2 separate regions of the Homo sapiens genome follow, and region 2 is linked to region 1. A link means that fine-mapping ties the variant in region 1 to the expression of a gene that starts in the linked region. Tissue or cell type: whole blood. Region 1 holds a variant in brackets; the other region holds the start of a gene. All regions are shown on one strand. Distances are from middle to middle.

The links. PIP is the estimated chance that this variant, and not a neighbour inherited with it, causes the effect.
Region 2: TRIB3 starts here. The variant in region 1 is fine-mapped to the expression of TRIB3 in whole blood (INTERVAL, PIP above 0.99).

The regions. Positions count from the first base shown.
Region 1 is chr20:309,015-317,165 of GRCh38, reverse strand. No RefSeq gene overlaps it. Among named protein-coding and RNA genes, the nearest start is that of NRSN2-AS1, 12 kb to the left of the region's middle. RefSeq lists enhancers at 6,598-6,677, 7,427-7,486. The variant C/T (reference allele first, on the strand shown) is at 3,563.
Region 2 is chr20:377,498-385,648 of GRCh38, reverse strand. It overlaps TRIB3 (tribbles pseudokinase 3), which reads right to left and starts at 4,889. Exons shown (of 4, transcript NM_021158.5): 1 at 4,480-4,889. RefSeq lists an enhancer at 2,772-3,770 and silencers at 3,456-4,045, 4,316-4,425, 4,446-4,605.

The sequences.
Region 1 (8,151 bases):
GGCTGGAGTACAGTGGTGCGATCATAGCTCACTGCATCCTGGAACTTCTGGGCCCAAGTGATCCTCCTGCCTCAGCCTCCCAAGTAGTTAGGACTACAGATGCATGCCACCATGGCTGGCTAATTTCGAAAAATTTTTTTTGTAGAGGCAGGTTCTCACTATGTTTCCTAGGCTGGTCTTGAACTCCTGGGCTCAAGCGATTTTCCCACCACAGCCTCCCAAAGTGCTGGGATACAGGTGTGAGCCACCATGCCTGGCCCTGTGTGTATTTATTTTTACATAACATAATAAAAATCTGTGGAGTCAGCAATCTGACACAAGAACTGGAACATTGATAACCTGTTTTCCCCAATGAATTCCTTTACCATCCCATCTCCTGCCTTCCTTCACCTGAGGTAATGTCTATCCTGATTCTTCCAGAACATTAAAAAAAAAAAAAAACAGCTTTGTTGAGATGTAATTCACATACCACACTATTCAGTCATTTATAGTTTACAATTCAGTGGCTTTCAGTGCATTCACAGAGTTGTGTAACTGTTGCCACAATGGATTTTAGACTATTTTCATCATCCCCAAAAGAAACCATTAGCATCAGTACTCATTAGCAGTCACTCTCCCATCTGCTCTGCCTTCCCTCTAATCCCCAGCCCTAGGCCACCATTAATCTGCTTCTGTATCCATGGATTTGTCTCTTCTGGACAGTTCATGTAAAGAGAATCATACAACATGTGGCCTTTTGTGCCTGGCTTCTTTCACTTAGCATCATGATTTCTAGGTTCATCTATGTTGTAGCATGTATCAGAACTTCCTTTTTATTGCCAAATAATATTCCATTATAGGCCAGATGTGGTGTCTCATGCCTACAATCCCAACACTTTGGGAAGTAGAGGTTGGAAGGATTGCTTGAGCCCAGGAGTTCGAGACGAGTCTGGGCAACATAGTGAGACCCCGTCTCTAAAAATAGAAAAATTAACTGGGCCTGGTGGTGTGTGCCTATAGTCCTAGTTACTTGGGAGACTGAGTCAGGAGGATCTCTTGAGCCTGGGAGTTCCAGGCTGCAGTGAGCCATGATCACACCACTGCACTCCAGCCTGGGTGACAGAGTGGAACTGTCTCAAAGAAAAAAATATATATATGGCCAGGTGTGGTGGCTCACATCTGTAATCCCAGCACTTTGGAAGGCTGAGGCAGGAGGATCATGAGGTCAGGAGATGGAAACCATCCTGGCTAACACGATGAAACCCATCTCTACTAAAAATACAAAAAATTAGCCGGGCGTGGTGGCACGGGCCTGTAGTCCCAGAAGGCTGAGGCAGGAGAATCGCTTGAACCTGGGAGGCAGAGGTTGCAATGAGCGGAGATTGTGCCACTGCACTCCAGCCTGGGCGACAGAGTGAGACTCGGTCTCAAAATAATAATAATAATAATAATAATAATAATACCTATTCTTAATGATACCTGAAGGCAGGATGAAGCCAACTCAGGTGTGGGTGTGGCTGTTGTAGGTACTGTCGTGTTACTCCACTCACCCTAACTGTGTCTAGCTCCAAAATACCTATTTGCCAACTGGCATGGTCCTCAAAGACATTCATAATGAGAAGAGAACAATAGGGACAAGGTAATTTCTTTTTTGATTCATCTAAATTTCCTGATTTTAAAAAAGTCAGGCCAGGGGCAGTGGCTCGCACCTGTAATCCCAGCACTTTTGGAGGCTGAGGCAGGCAGATCACCTGCGGTCAGGAGTTTGAGACCAGTCTGACCAACATGGAGAAACCCCGTCTCTACTAAAAATACAAAATTAACTGGAGGTGTTGGCGCATGCCTGTAATCCCAGCTACTCAGAAGGCTGAGGGAGGAGAATTACTTGAACCTGGGAGGCAGAGGTTGCAGTGAGCCAAGATAGCGCCATTGCACTCCAGCCTGGGCAACAAGAGCAAAACTCCATATCAAAAACAAAAACAAACAAACAAACAAAAAAAGCCAGTGGCTCATACCTATAATCCCAGCACTTTGGGAGGCTAGCTTGAGCCTAGGAGTTTGAGACCAGCCTGGGCAAAATATTGAGACCCACATCTCTACAATAAATAAAAAATTTACCAGTTGTGGTGGTGCACATTTGTGGTCCCAACCACTGGGGAGGCTGAGGTGGGAGGATCACTTGAGCCCAGGAGGTTGAGGCTGCAGTGAGCAGTGATCACCCCACTGCACTCCAGCCTGGGCAACAGAGCAAGACAGTGTCTCAAAAAAAAAAAAAAAAAAAGAAAAATCAGAGATTATGATAGTGTGTGCATTACAAGGTCTCTTTTCTTTTGTATGTGTGTGAGATGGCATCTCCCTCTGTTGCCCAGGCTGGAGTGCAGTGGCATCATCATAGCTCACTGCTACCTCAAACTCTGGGGCTCAAATGATCTTCCCACCTCAGCCTCCTGAGTAACTGAGACTACAGGTCCTTTCTTTTCACTAAATAATAAGAGATCTTTTAAAAAACAATATAGCTAGGCACGGTGGCTCACACCTGTAATCCCAACACTTTGGGAGGCCGAGGCGGGCAGATCACGAGGTCAAGAGATCGAGACCATCCTGGCCAACATGGTGAAACCATGTCTCTACTAAAAATACAAAAGTTAGCTGGTCTTGGTGATACGTACCTGTAGTCTCAGCTATTTGGGAGGCTGAGGCAGGAGAATCGCTTGAACCCAGGTGGTGGAGGTTGCAGTGAGCCGAGATTGTGCCATTGCACTCCAGCCTGGTGACAGAGCAAGACGCAGTCTCAAAAACAAAACTCAGAAACCAATATAATAGTATAAACTGCACAGCGGCTATTGAGTACTTGAAATGTGGCTAATATAGCTGGGCACAGTGGCACACATTGTAGTCCCAGCCACTTTTGAGGTTGAGGCAGGAGGATTGCTTGAGCCCAGGAGTTCAAGGCTGTAGTGCCCTATGATTGCACCTGTGAGTAGCCACTGTACTCCAGCCTAGGCAACAGCAAGACCCCTGTATCAAAACAAACAAAAGAAGTGTGGCTATTAGACATATTACAAATATTCCCAGAGGTGACTCAGAAGTTAATCATAGAAGTCAAACTTTGCTTATTGTTATGAGTCTCTAGGGAGTACTTCAACTCATTTGCATCTGTTTCCTCATCTTCAAAATGGGACAGTGTAATTCTGGACCTGGGACATAGTAAGGATTCAATGGGTGGCAGCTGTGACAAGAGCAACAACAAAAATATTGTGCGTCTTTCTTTTTTTTAATAATGGCACAAAAAGGCAAAACCATAGATACAGTAAACGGATGTGTGGTTGCCAGTGTTTGGCGGGGAGAGGGTTCAATAAGTGAGCACAGGGGGTTTTTTAGGGTGAAGAAATGTGGGTATATGACTGTGCATTGGTTGATATCCATTAAACTTAATAGCACAAAAAGTGAACCTTAATGCATGCAAAGTTAAAAAAATCACTTAGGACATTTAGATAATTCCAAAATGTCATGCAGAATATGACAAACATCTTCACCGTATTACAAATGTGTGAAATGACCTCATGAAGAGGATAGAGGAAAA[C/T]GTGCTGACCTAAGTAACTTTAGAAATGAGTGGGCCAGGCGTGGTGGCTCATGCCTTTAATCCCAGGACTTTGGGAGGCTGAGGCGGGAGGATCACTGGAGCCCAGGAGTTGGAGACAAGCCTAGGCAACATAGTGAGATCCCATCTCTACAAAAATTTTAAAAAATTAGATGGGTGTAGTGGCGCATGCCTGTAGTCCCAGCTACTTGGGAGGCTGAGGCAGGAGGATCACTTAAGACTGGGAAGTCAAGGCTGCTGTGAGCTGTGATGGCCCCGCTGCACTCCAGCACTCCAACCTGGGCAACAGAGTGAGGCTCTGTCTCAAAAAAAAAAAAAAAAGAAAAAGAAAAAAGAAACAAGTGGAGTCTGCTGGAACACTAAAGGCAAAAGAAAGTGTTCAGAAGAATGTACTCTACTTGATAAAGTTTCCCACAGGGGTATGGGTTAACAATTTTGATAATCCTACACATGTATACTGGACTTGAACAATTAAGTAAATGGATGGTGGATGTGGATGATGGGAACCAGGTTTCCCGTTATTGGAGTGGGAATTTAGAGATAAGCAAGCAGGAAGCAAGCCAAATGATCCCTGGATTCAAGTGGTAAATATAAACAGGAACTCATGTTTAGCTTAATATATATACAGATGGTTACAAATGGAAATATAGATATGTGTGTATATATATACACATTGGTATATACAGATATATTTCTTTGTTCTGTCAGTTGAGAAGGCTTAAAAGAAATGATACCCCAAGGCCAGGTGTGGTGGCTCACGCCTGTAATCCCAACACTTTGGGAGGCCAAGGCAGGAGGATGGCTTGAGGCCGGGAGTTGTATCAGTCTGGGCAACATGGCAAGACCTTATCTCTACAAAAAAAAAAATTGAAAATTAAAATTAGCTGAGTGTGGTGGCACACACCTGTGGTCCTAGCTACTCAGGAGGCTAAGGAGGGAGGATCACTTGAGCCCAGGAGGTCTAGGCTGCAGTTTTTATTGTCTTTAAATTCTCTTCAGATAATTTACCCCCGCATTGCCTACACAGCACACTGCAGAGTGCTGGGCAACTTGGTAATTAACCCTCTAATTGTGTAAACTGGAAGCTTCGTGAGGTTATGGCTTCATTACCATGGCTACGTGGCTGTAGCCATGAGTGTGCACTCCAGTGTGGGTGATGGAGTGAGACTCTGTCTCAAAAAGGAAGGGAGGGAGGGAGGGAGGGAGGAAGGAAATAAATGACACCCTAGTAGCAATGAGTGCACCTAGCGCCCAGTTCTTGGTTTCTAATAAATACCCTTCTCCGAAACAATCAAAGCTCTTGCGAAATGGCTGATTTGAGGACTGGGGCAGGAAATACGAAAGATGAGCCTGAGGCATCTTGTAGTGCCAGAAAGTAAGGAAGTGCTTGACGGCAACGAGAAAACCCCACAAAAATAGGGGTGTGTCAAAGGGAGACGGGAGCCAACCGAAAGAGCTCCCAAAAGCCAAAGCTGGAACAACTTGAGCAACAAAATCAAATAGTATTGGATTATAACCTAAAGTATTAAATAATTATCTGTGAATCCATACTGATATAAATAAATTACTGAATAAATGAGACAAATCTTCAGTGTAGAAAAATCCCAAATAATCTATGTAGCTATTCCAACCTTAAGGAGATAGAGCATAACTCCTCACTTAAGTGTGGCCCGAGCATAGTGACTTCCTTCCAAAGAGTACAGTATGAAAAGGGGCAAAAGAAGACTGACTTTCCAGTAGAGAAACCTGACGCAGCACCAACAGTGATGTCATGTTGCTATGTGAGAAACCGCCCCAGCCAAGAGGAGCCCAGAGAGACACGACAGCTAGTGCGATGAGGCATGCTGGATGGATCCTGGAGTAGAAAAAGATGGAGTAGAAAAAGAACGTTGGGTAAAAACGAAGGAAATCTGAATAAACTGTGAACTCTAATTAATAAATAATGTATCATTATTGGTTTATTAATTGGAACAAATATACCATGCGTCTGCAATACCATATGTGATGTTAATAGCAGAAACACCAGCCTGAGCAACATGGCGAGACTTCATCTCTATGAAAAATGCAAAAATCAGCTGGGCTTGGTGGCATGCCCCTGTAGTCTCTGCTACTTGGGAGGCTGAGGTGGGAGGATCGCCTGAGCCTGGGAGGCGGAGGTTGCAGTGAGCCGAGATCGCGCCACTGCACTCCAGCCTGGGTGAAAGAGCGGGACCCTGTCTCAATAATAATAATAATAATGAAAGAAACAGGGTGGGTGGCTGGGGTAGACGGGAACTTTATATTCACAATTTTTCTGTAAATCTAAAAGTGTTCTAAAAAATTGAAGTTTTTTTTTTGTAATGGCAAACGGGTTTTAAAAACACATTTGGTTTATTTAGACTCCAGAGTGTCAGAGCCATTTACGCAGCCCGCCTCAAAAACAGAATTTCTTCCATGGATTAAGAGAAATATTCATTTATCCTCCAGTTGTAATGTTCTGAACCAGGAATTAGATGGTTCAGTAAAAGTTGCCTACCAACTAATTAAGTCAATGTCTCATGAACTCTGCATCAAAAAACTCGGTATCTTTAATTTTGTATGCATTTGAAATACAAAGGAAAGATGACTAGTTCCTTGATCATTTTAAGTTAAATTAAAATACCTATAATGAAAGACATTCATATAGAGCAGACTATATCATCCCATTGCCTACATTTTCATTTCCTAAAATTGTTTTAGTAGAGAATGGTATATATTGTTGCGTAATTGAAACAGTTTTGCTCTCCTTAAATAAAATAGCAGCCAAAGATTATTCAGGGTGCAGCTGACAGAGGCCTTACTGCCAATTCCTTCTGATCTGGAGAATTCCTAAAAAAAAAAAAAAAAATATCGAGTCTTCTTGTTACACCGAAGAGAAGGAGGGCAGGGTCGAAGCGCATTGGTGGTGTCCCTGGGCCGAGGGCAGGGCTCTAAGTCACGGGACCTGCTGATTGGTGGACTCCCCAGAGCTGGGGGGCGGGGCCTCTGGCGATGGAGCTCGGAGTCCATTGGCTGCGAGGCTAGAGGATGGTGTAATGGACAGCATCGGCCTGTGCGGCCGGTTTCTATGGCAACGGAGGCTTGAAAGAGCCACTCAGATTTCGGCGCTCGCCCCCAACTCCCCTTTCCGGAGGGGGCAGGGCGGCCTGGATTTGGGGGCCGGCGGAGGAGGCGTGGGGGCTGGGAGTTAAGGAGACAGGGCTTTCCTTGGACCAAACCAACCCAGCAATGCCACATTGGAAGTGGGTTTGAGGAACCGGGCCTGCGTGCTCATTTGAAAAAAAATCAGCCAAACAGAAAGGTATGAAGAAGAAACACCTATAATTCCATCCTTCCCTGACTTCTCCACTCGTAACATTTTGAACAGCAAAGCTTGGCACAGAACTGGCACTCAATGGGAGGAAGAGAGGGAGGGAAGGAAGGAAGGGGAGAAGGGGAGGGAGGGTCGATGATGTGGACAACGTGGCGTGACACGAAGTGCCCGCCCCCTTGGGCTGAAAGTCACAGGCAGGCCCGCAGAGCTGACGGGATATAACAGACTTGGATTTGGGGGCTTGGAGGAGGAGGGGTGGGACAGCCAAAGGCTCCTTGATTCCATCCCGGGATTTGGGAGGCCTGACTGCAGAAAGACTCCTCTCCGGCTTCACACCCCGCCAGCCCTGCCACTTGCAGCCGCCAGTGCTTCCAGTCTCCAGATCCCTGTGTCTTTGTGTTTGGGGAATAATAAACAGTGCCTGCTTCATCGAGTTGGTGTCAGAACTGAGTTAATGCATGGAAAGTTCTTAATACAATGCCTGAAACGTAGTAAACGTGCAATCAACCAGCTATTATCACAATTGAAGACGGTGGGATTTGACTAGGTGGAGAGAATGGGGAGGTTATTGGCTGTGGGTAAGGAGGCAGGAGGGAGCAGCCGTGTTGAAACCCTGCAAAGAGAGCAGTTTGGAGATCATACAGGAAGTCATAGGAGACGACAGCCAGAGGGCATTCTTCTCAAGCCCTTGACATGGATTATTTTATTTCATTTTCTCACCAGCCCTGATAATGTAGTTATTACCATAGACCCATTTTCCTGCTCAGGAAACTGAAGTTCAGAGAGGTTATGTAGCTTGTCTATGCAAAGAAATGACAGAACCAAATGGGCATTTGTGGGGCTCAGAACAAGAGTAGAGTTGGAGGCCCATATACCATATGTCTCTATAGTTAGAAATTATACAACAGTCCAGCAAGTGTTAAATGAAATATGTTCTGTTTTCTTCCTTGATGGATATATCCTCTAACAACCTGGAAGGCCATGTTCAAATTAGAATTCTAAGACCCTTGGAGTTATGTGCCAGAATGTGTAGGCCCAAGGAGACCTGTCCCCTGGAACCTGTATCCATCCCTTATCCAGCTACCTCTCATCCCATCAGTGATGGAGCTAGCATGCATGGGTCAACACCTAGCTGTCACCTGCAAACAGCTATCTTGAGGCCCAAGGCTCAGGTCTATAAGATGTGCATCAGGCAGTATAGTTTGCCCTCAGGTGAGATGAAGCCAGGGATGAGGCCCAC
Region 2 (8,151 bases), 68 kb before region 1:
ATCTGGAGGCCTGTTTCAACATACATTGCTGGGCCCTACTCCCAAAGTAGCTCATTCAGAAGGTCTGAATCTGCATTTCTATCCAGTTCCCAGGTGAAGTTGATGCCGCTGTCCAGTAACCCCTGTTCTGGGGTGAGGGAAGAGGCAAAAGAACATGCTGCATGTTCCCCAAGAACACGGTGGAGAATGAGCGTGACTGCAAAAAAAAGTGAAAAGTTAAAAAAAAAAAAAAAATAGGCCGGGCGTGGTGGCTCACACCTGTAATCCCAGCACTTTGGGAGGCCGAGGCAGGCAGGTCACCTGAGGTCAGGAGTTTGAGACCAGCCTGACCAACATGGTGAAACCCCGTCTCTACTAAAACTACAAAAATTAGCCGGGCGTGGTGGCACACGCCTGTAATCCCAGCTACTCAGGAGTCTGAGGCAGGAGAGTTGCTTGAACCCAGGAGGCAAAGGTTGCGGTGAGCTGAGATAGTGTCATTGCACTCCGGCCTGGGCGACAAGAGTGAAACTCCGTCTCAAAAATAAATAAATAAATAAAAATAAGGTGAGGTTAGTAGAGGCCCTATTGTGAAGGGCTCTACGAGCATCATATGGCAGAGGTGGTTAGTGGTCCCCAGTTTCAGGTCTCCCCTCCTTACATAGGATTAGAACCTGAGATTTTCAGCTGAGCACAAGGACACCTAGAATAAACTGCATTTCCTGTCTCCCTTGTATCCTTGTATCAGCATATGGCTAGTAGGACACAAGTGGAAGTGTTGTGTACAATGCCCAGGACAGTGTTCTTAAAGGGAGGGCCCAACTTCCTCATTTCCTCCTTTCCTGTATGCTGGAATGTGGACCTAACTGCTGGAGCTCCAGCATCTACCTTGGCTTCAGAAGTACCACATACAGTAGAGCAAGAGAGGAGCCTAGGTCCCTGACACATGGAGTTGTCAGGCCAGACCTCCAGGTTTTTTACACAGGAGAGAAATAAACATCTATTGAAGGCTGGGCGCAGTGGCTCATGCCTGTAATCCCAGCACTTTGGGAGGCCGAGGCAGGCAGATCACAAGGTCAGGAGATCGAGACCATCTTGGCCAACATGGTGAAACCCCATCTCTACTAAACATACAAAAATTAGGTGGGCATGGTGGTGCATGCCTGTAGTCCCAGCTACTCGGGAGGCTGAGGCAGGAGAATCACTTGAGCCTGGGAGGCAGAGGTTGTAGTGAGCTGAGATCTCGCCACTGCACTCCAGCCTGGGGACAGAGCAAGACTCTGTCTCAAAAAAAGAGAAAAAGAAGAAAAAAACGTCTATTTCATTTTAGCTATTAAGTGGCTGTTTCTATATTACAGCTGAGCCTAATCCTAATTAACACACAATAGGATTTGGAATTATCCAAAGGCAGTGGGGAGCCACTGAAGGATTTCAGCAGGGGAACATCATGCTTTTAGGGTGGATTTGAAAGTACAAGACGGGGCAGTGAGACTAGCTAGGAGGCCCACACAAGCACGAGTCCAGGCAGGAGAAGGTGACCTGGACTAGGGGGTGCTAGATGGAGACGCGAAGTTAAGGGCTCATAGGAGGAAGATCAAGAGGACTCAGTGGCAGACTGGATGGACTGGATGGATTGGATGTGAGGGGTGAAGGAGAGGGTGGAATCGAGGTGAGGTCCAGCCTTTGGCTCCTGCAATGAGGAGGGATGATGGCTTCATGTCCTGAGCTGGGGGAGAAGCCTGTATTTTGGGGACTGTGGAAGAAAACTGTTAAGTATTTCAGACCCTTATGTCTTGGCAGTGTCATGAAAAGTGGGTTTATACTGTGGAATAGTGGCAGTGCAGCCACTAACAATGAAGACAGTGCTAGTGGGAGGATAAAAGGTACCACCTCTGAGGAGTGCATTTTGACAATATCAAAATGAAAAACAGGCTGGGTGCAGTGCTTCATGCCTGTAATCCCAGTACTTTGGGAGGCTGAAGCAGGAAGATCACTTGAGCCCAGGAGTTCAAGACCAGCCTAGGCAACGTAGCGAGACCCTGTCCCTAAGAAAAAAAAAATTATCTGGTCATGATGGCACACAGCTGTAGTCCCAGCCATGCAGGAGGTTGAAGTAGGGGAATCACTTGAGCCCAGAAGGTAAAGGCTTCAGTGAGCCATGGTCAGGAACTCTAGCCTGTGCAACAAAGTGAGACTGTCTCAAAACAAAGCAAAACAAAACAAAACAAAAACAACGATGAAAAGCGTGTGAGCTTTGATTCAGCAATTAATCCCATTGCTAAGAATTTATTCTGTAGAGGTGTGTGTGTGTAAGCATGCAAATACACAGTTATTCCTGCAGCCCTTTTGACAGAAATAATTGGCTGTCTATAATTACAGGGCTGGTTACATAAATTATACTTCATCCACACAACGGAACAATGTGCAGCCATTTAAAAGGTTGAGGATGCTCTTTATAGGGTAATTGGAAGGATCTCCAGAGTGAACTGTTAAGTGAAAGGAAAGCCACCATTCACGCAGCTGTGTGACTGTGTGTGTGGTGGCTGAAGGAGAGGGCAGTAGGGCATGGTCAGGGCAGACGGGTTCTCTCTAGAACCCATCTGCCCACCCACTTAAACTCCATTCCAAGGAGGTGCATGCCCAGGTATGGGCATTGGTGCGAGAGACCTCAGCCTGGTTAAAGACCTTCCCAACAGTTCAAGGCAGGATTAACAAGGCAACATGAGTCAGTTACCAGACAGAGGCCCACCTCTCCAAGTACGCTGCTCCCAAATGGAAGAGCTGCCTTGGAAGGGAAGGCCTCCCCACATGAGTGAAAGGTCATGACTTTGGCTTGGTAAGAATGCAGTAAGGAGTGGCTGTAGTCAGATATTCCTGGGTTCTAATCCTGTCTCAAACCCTTTCTAGCTGGGGGGTACCCCTGGTCAAGTTCCTCAAGCTTTCTGAGCCTCAGTTCCTGTAAAGTGGGAACAGGATGCAAAGCTTACAGGTTTTTCGTGATGATGAAATGAAAACACAAATGAAGCATGTAGAGCTTATGGACCTGTTGCCAGGTAGGTGTCAGGAAATGGTCATTATTAGCACTCATCCTGTTATTCTTCACAGCAAGATGCATAAGTACCATCCTTGGGAGTCTTAGAAAGCTCCCCAGGTTCGAGGCTGGGATGACACTCCTTACATCTCAAGGCTGTTCTGAGTCACGCAGGATGATACCTGGCTGTGCACATGCTTTGTGCCCTGTGCAGCAGGAGACTGCCTGGAGTCCCTCTGGCCTGTGCCACATCAGTAGTCCAGGCTGCCTTGGCCCCGGCCATCCCTCAGAGCCTGTTGGGGCCTGGGATAAGCTCCACCCAGATGGGGACAGATGCGGTAACTGAGTCTATACATCTTGGGCAAGGCATTTTGCAGACCACACTGCAGAATAGAATCTGTGATGTGGAATGAAAGCAGCCCCTAATATCTACCTCTTGCTGTTCCCTGCCACACTCGGGACCCAGGGAAATGAGGGCGGGTTACATCAAGCGCAAGCGCGCGCGCGCACGCACACACACACACACACACACACACACAGCCCTCCCAGCTGTCACACCCATGGTCTACCCGAGCAAGGCCGCACCCCCACCCCGCCCCGCCCCCCGCAGCCAGGCCCCTCCCGTGGGAGCCCAAGCGAAAGGCGGCGGGTGTCCGAGTCAGAAGTTTCAGCGGAAATTGAAGCGCGGCCCTGGGACAGGAGGGGGGTGAGGCAGAGGGAAGGAGGTGGCTGTCGTCCCCCGCCCTCCCCGGTCTGCAGGCACAGCACACACCGCAGACACGCGCGCACCGTCCACCTGCAAACCCGGAGCCGCGCACTGGGGAGAACCAGCGGCCCTGCCGGGCCAGAGATCGCGCGCTGCGCCCCCGCTCCCACTCCCTCGGCTCCCCCGCTCCAGGGCACCCCAGCCCTGTCCCGGCGGTGTCCCCTGCACCGCCAACCCCTGCCACCAAGTGCCCAGCCCTCCAGACAGCTCTCACCATCTCCTGAGACACAGGTGCTCGGGACCCACCCTCACCCAGGACTCTCCCCTGCGGGTTCACGAGGACCCCCTCGGATCCCCCGCCACCCCCAGAGTCCTCCAGTGCCCCCCACAAGCCCCTCACCGCACCACACGACTCCCCTATCCCGCACTCACGCAAAACAGACCCCCGCACGCCCTCCTCTAGGGGTGACGGCCGGACACCTCCGTCCCTGGCTTCCCCAGCCCAACTCGGGCGACCCCACGCTCCGCGGGGCCGCGTCACCTGAAGCCCGGGGGGAGCACTCAGCCCAGGCCCGGATCAAAAGGGATCTGACCTGGCCGCGCCCCGACGGCGGGGTCTGTGAAAAGGTGTGTAAGGGGCGTGCGTGCGTGTAACACGCGGCAACACGCAGACGCCCAGAGGCTTCCGGCGCCCCCTTCCCCGGCCGCCCCCTCCCGCCCCCCGGCCTCCGGGCGAGTCCGCAGGCCGCACCCCGCCGAGTACCTCGCCCCGTCGTTCCGCGTGGGCCCGGGCGCCGCCGGGGCTCAGAGCCTCCAGGGCACCAGCAGGTGGGCCGGCCCGCTGCGCTGCTGCCGAGCTCGGGATCCCAGCCCAGCTCCAGCCCTGCCCGGGTCCTAGCAGCGGACGCGCGCGGAGCCGCCTCCACTTCCGCTGCGAGTCTCGTGCGCGCCCGGCCCCCGGTCCGGGTGATGCAAACCGGAGCTAATCCCCCGGTCCGGGTGATGCAAACCGGAGCTAATCCCCCGGTCCGGGTGATGCAAACCGGAGCTAATCAGCCGCCGTCTGATGCCCTCGGGCCCGGGATCGCACCATCCCCCGCGCCGCGCCCGGGCCTCTCTCCTCTGCATCCGCTGCACCTGGGACCCGCCCTCGCTGGCCCCCTAGGGGCGTCTGGTCAGTGCAGACATCAGCCACGGACTCTCCCTATCACCTTGGAAAAAAAATTTGCTCTTTTTTTTTTTTTTTTTGAGACAGAGTCTTGCTCTGTCGCCCAGGCTGGAGGGCGGTGGCGCGATCTCGGCTCACTGCAAGCTCCGCCTCCCGGGTTCACGCCATTCTCCTGCCTCAGCCTCCCGAGTAGCTGGGACTACAGGCGCCCGCACCACGCCCGGCTAATTTTTTGTATTTTTAGTAGAGACGGGGTTTCACCTTGTTAGCCAGGATGGTCTCGATCTCCTGACCTCGTGATCCACCCGCCTCGGCCTCCCAAAGTGCTGGGATTACAGGCGTGAGCCACCGCGCCCGGCCAAAAATTTGCTCTTCTGAGCCTCGGTTTCCCCACCTATGAAATGGGAAGAACATTCCTCCTTCTCAGGATGGTGCTTAAAAGAGCAAACAGTGACTGTTGTCGGGGTGCTTCCCCTTTTTTATAAAGCACATTCCCAGCACTGCCTTATAAAACCTTTAGGAGAAGTGGACATGCGGGAATCTCCATTCTCCACATTCTACTGAGAGCCAGCCTGAGGCCCAGCTATGGGCAAGTGGTTCAGAAGCTTCAGGAAGGCCTATGGACTTAAGAGCTGACTCTGGGCTCAAAGGAACCACCGTGGCGCCCTTGGGAGGCCTAAGGTCTGCTGAGCTTCCCCGCGTCCCTTTGCTAGAGGCAGTGCGGCCTAGTGGTGAAGAGCCCCTAGAGCCAGCTGGCCTAAGAGTGCACTCCACCTCCGCTCCAACCCACAGTGCTACCCCAGAAAAGCTACCTAAAACCCTGCCTCAACTTCCTGCTCCATAAAATGGGCTCATAATTGCGCTCACTTCATAAAGTTGTTGTGAGGATTAAATAATTTAATATGTGTAAGACGCTTAGAACAGTGTGTGGCACATTGCGGATGCTCAGTGGAGTGTAAACAATGGAGACAGAGAGGGAAAGAGGCCTTTAATATGCTTGCACCCAAGGCCTGGGAGGGCTTGGTGCTACTTGATTTGGGGTGAAACACCCCTCTGCGTCCTAGGCGTCCAGCACCTTTCTTTTTTTTTCTTTTTTTGAGGCAGAGTTTCACTCGTTGCCCAGGATTGAGTGCGATGGCACGATCTCGGCTCACTGCAACCTCCACCTCCCGGGTTCAAGCGATTCTCCTGCCTCAGCCTCCCAAGTAGCTGGGATTACAGGCATGCGCTACTATGCCTGGCTAATTTTGTATTTTTAGTAGAGACAGGGTTTCTCCATGTTGGTCAGGCTGGTCTCGAACTCCTGACCTCAGATAATCCACCTGCCTCGGCCTCCCAAAGTGCTGAGATTACAGGCATGAGCCACCGCGCCCGGCCTGGGTCCAGCACCTTTCTTAGAAATCCCTTTTGATCTGAATTCACCAGTGTCAAAAAATAACTCCTCAGCTGGGTGAGCTGGCTCATGTCTGTAATCCTAGCACTTTGGGAGGCCAAGACGGGAGGATTGCTTGAGGCCAGGAGTTTGAGAACAGCCTGGATGACATAGTAAGACCCTGTCTTTACAAAGAGAAAAAGATAGCGGGCATGGTGGTACGAGCTTGTGGTCCCAGCTACTTAGGAAGCTGAGGTAGGAGGATCACTTGAGCCCAGGAGTTCAGGTTACAGTGAAACGTGATTGTGCCACTGCACTCCAGGTTGGGTGACAGAGTGAGATCCTGTGTAATAAATAAATAAGTAAGTAAGTAAAATAACTCCTCTAGAGGCTGGGCGTGGTGGCTTATGCCTGTAATCCCAGCACTTTGGGAGGCTGAGGCAGGTGGATCACGAGGTCGGGAGATCAAGACCATCCTGGCTAACACGGTGAAACCCGTTTCTACTAAAAGTACAAAAAATTACTAAAAATACAAAAAACACACCTGTAGTCCCAGCTACTCGGGAGGCTGAGGCAGGAGAATCGCTTGAACCCAGGAGGCAGGAGTTGCAATGAGCTGAGATTGCGCCATTGCACTCCAGCCTGGGCGACAGAGCAAGACTCCGTCTCAAAAAAAAAAAAAAAGTAAAATAAAATAAAATAACTCCTCTAGGCAGAGGCTGGATGGGAGGCAGGGTGGAGTCATATTTGTTTTCCTGTTTCCAAATCCCTGGGGACCAGCTCACCTGTGTCCCAGAGCCTTCAGGGTATACCAGGGCATTCTGGGATCTCATTTAATCCTGGCAACTCCCCTGCTGGGGAGGGGTGAATAAACTCATCCTCTATCCTGGGACACCGAAATGGTTAGGAAGATCCCACAGCTGTGAGGGGTGAAGAAAGGTGGGAGGGCTGTTTCCTGAGCACCCCTCTGAAGGTGTGCTGGGTTTGCTTGTACATTCCCAACTAACGTTGTTTTGTGCTGTGTCAGCCCCTGTTCTAAATGCTGGGGACTCAGCAGTGACCAGAATGATCCACCCCTGCTCTTACAAATCTTATAAATCAGTGGAGAGATAGACCATTATCAGGAAAATAAAATTAAAACCATGATCATTTAAAATAGATTGCATCATGCATTTTCTTGAATAAAATAGGAAAGACTTGTTCTCCGTCATGACTGAGGGTGGCCATTTTCAGCAGGGCTTATCAGAAAGGTGATGTTTAAACTAAAAGCTGAGGGAAGAGAAGGGGTGAAGAGTGCAAAGATGTGAAAGGGAGACAGAGAAAAACAGTAAGTCACCTCCATTCTGCAGACAAGAAGAGTTAAGGTAAGGGACCTACCCAAGACCACCCAGCTGGTCGTATAAGACTGATTTCAGGCTGGGCGCGGTGGCTCACGCCTGTAATCCCAACACTTTGGGAGGCTGAGGCAGGCGGATCACCTGAAGTCAGGAGATGGAGACCAGCCTGGCTAAGGTGGTGAAACCCGGTTTCTGCTAAGAATACAAAAATTTAGCCGGGCGTGATGGCATGTACCTGTAATCCCAGCTACTCGGGAGGCTGAGACAGGAGAATCGCTTGAACCCAGGAGGCGGAGGTTGCAGTGAGCCAATTGCGCCACTGCATTCCAGCTTGGGCAACAAGAGTGAAACTGCATCTCAAAAAAAAAAAAAAAACAAAAAGACTGATTTCAGATTTGAACTTGGGGCAGCTGACTCCAGTGCCCATGCCATCCTGGGATATTTCACGAGCTTTGTATCCCTGCAGCCTCCACATGGACCTATGGGTATCGTGACAGGAACGGCACCCTGGGTATGGCCCCCAAATTTTGGTGACTTGTCACAGCTGGGTTTGTCAAA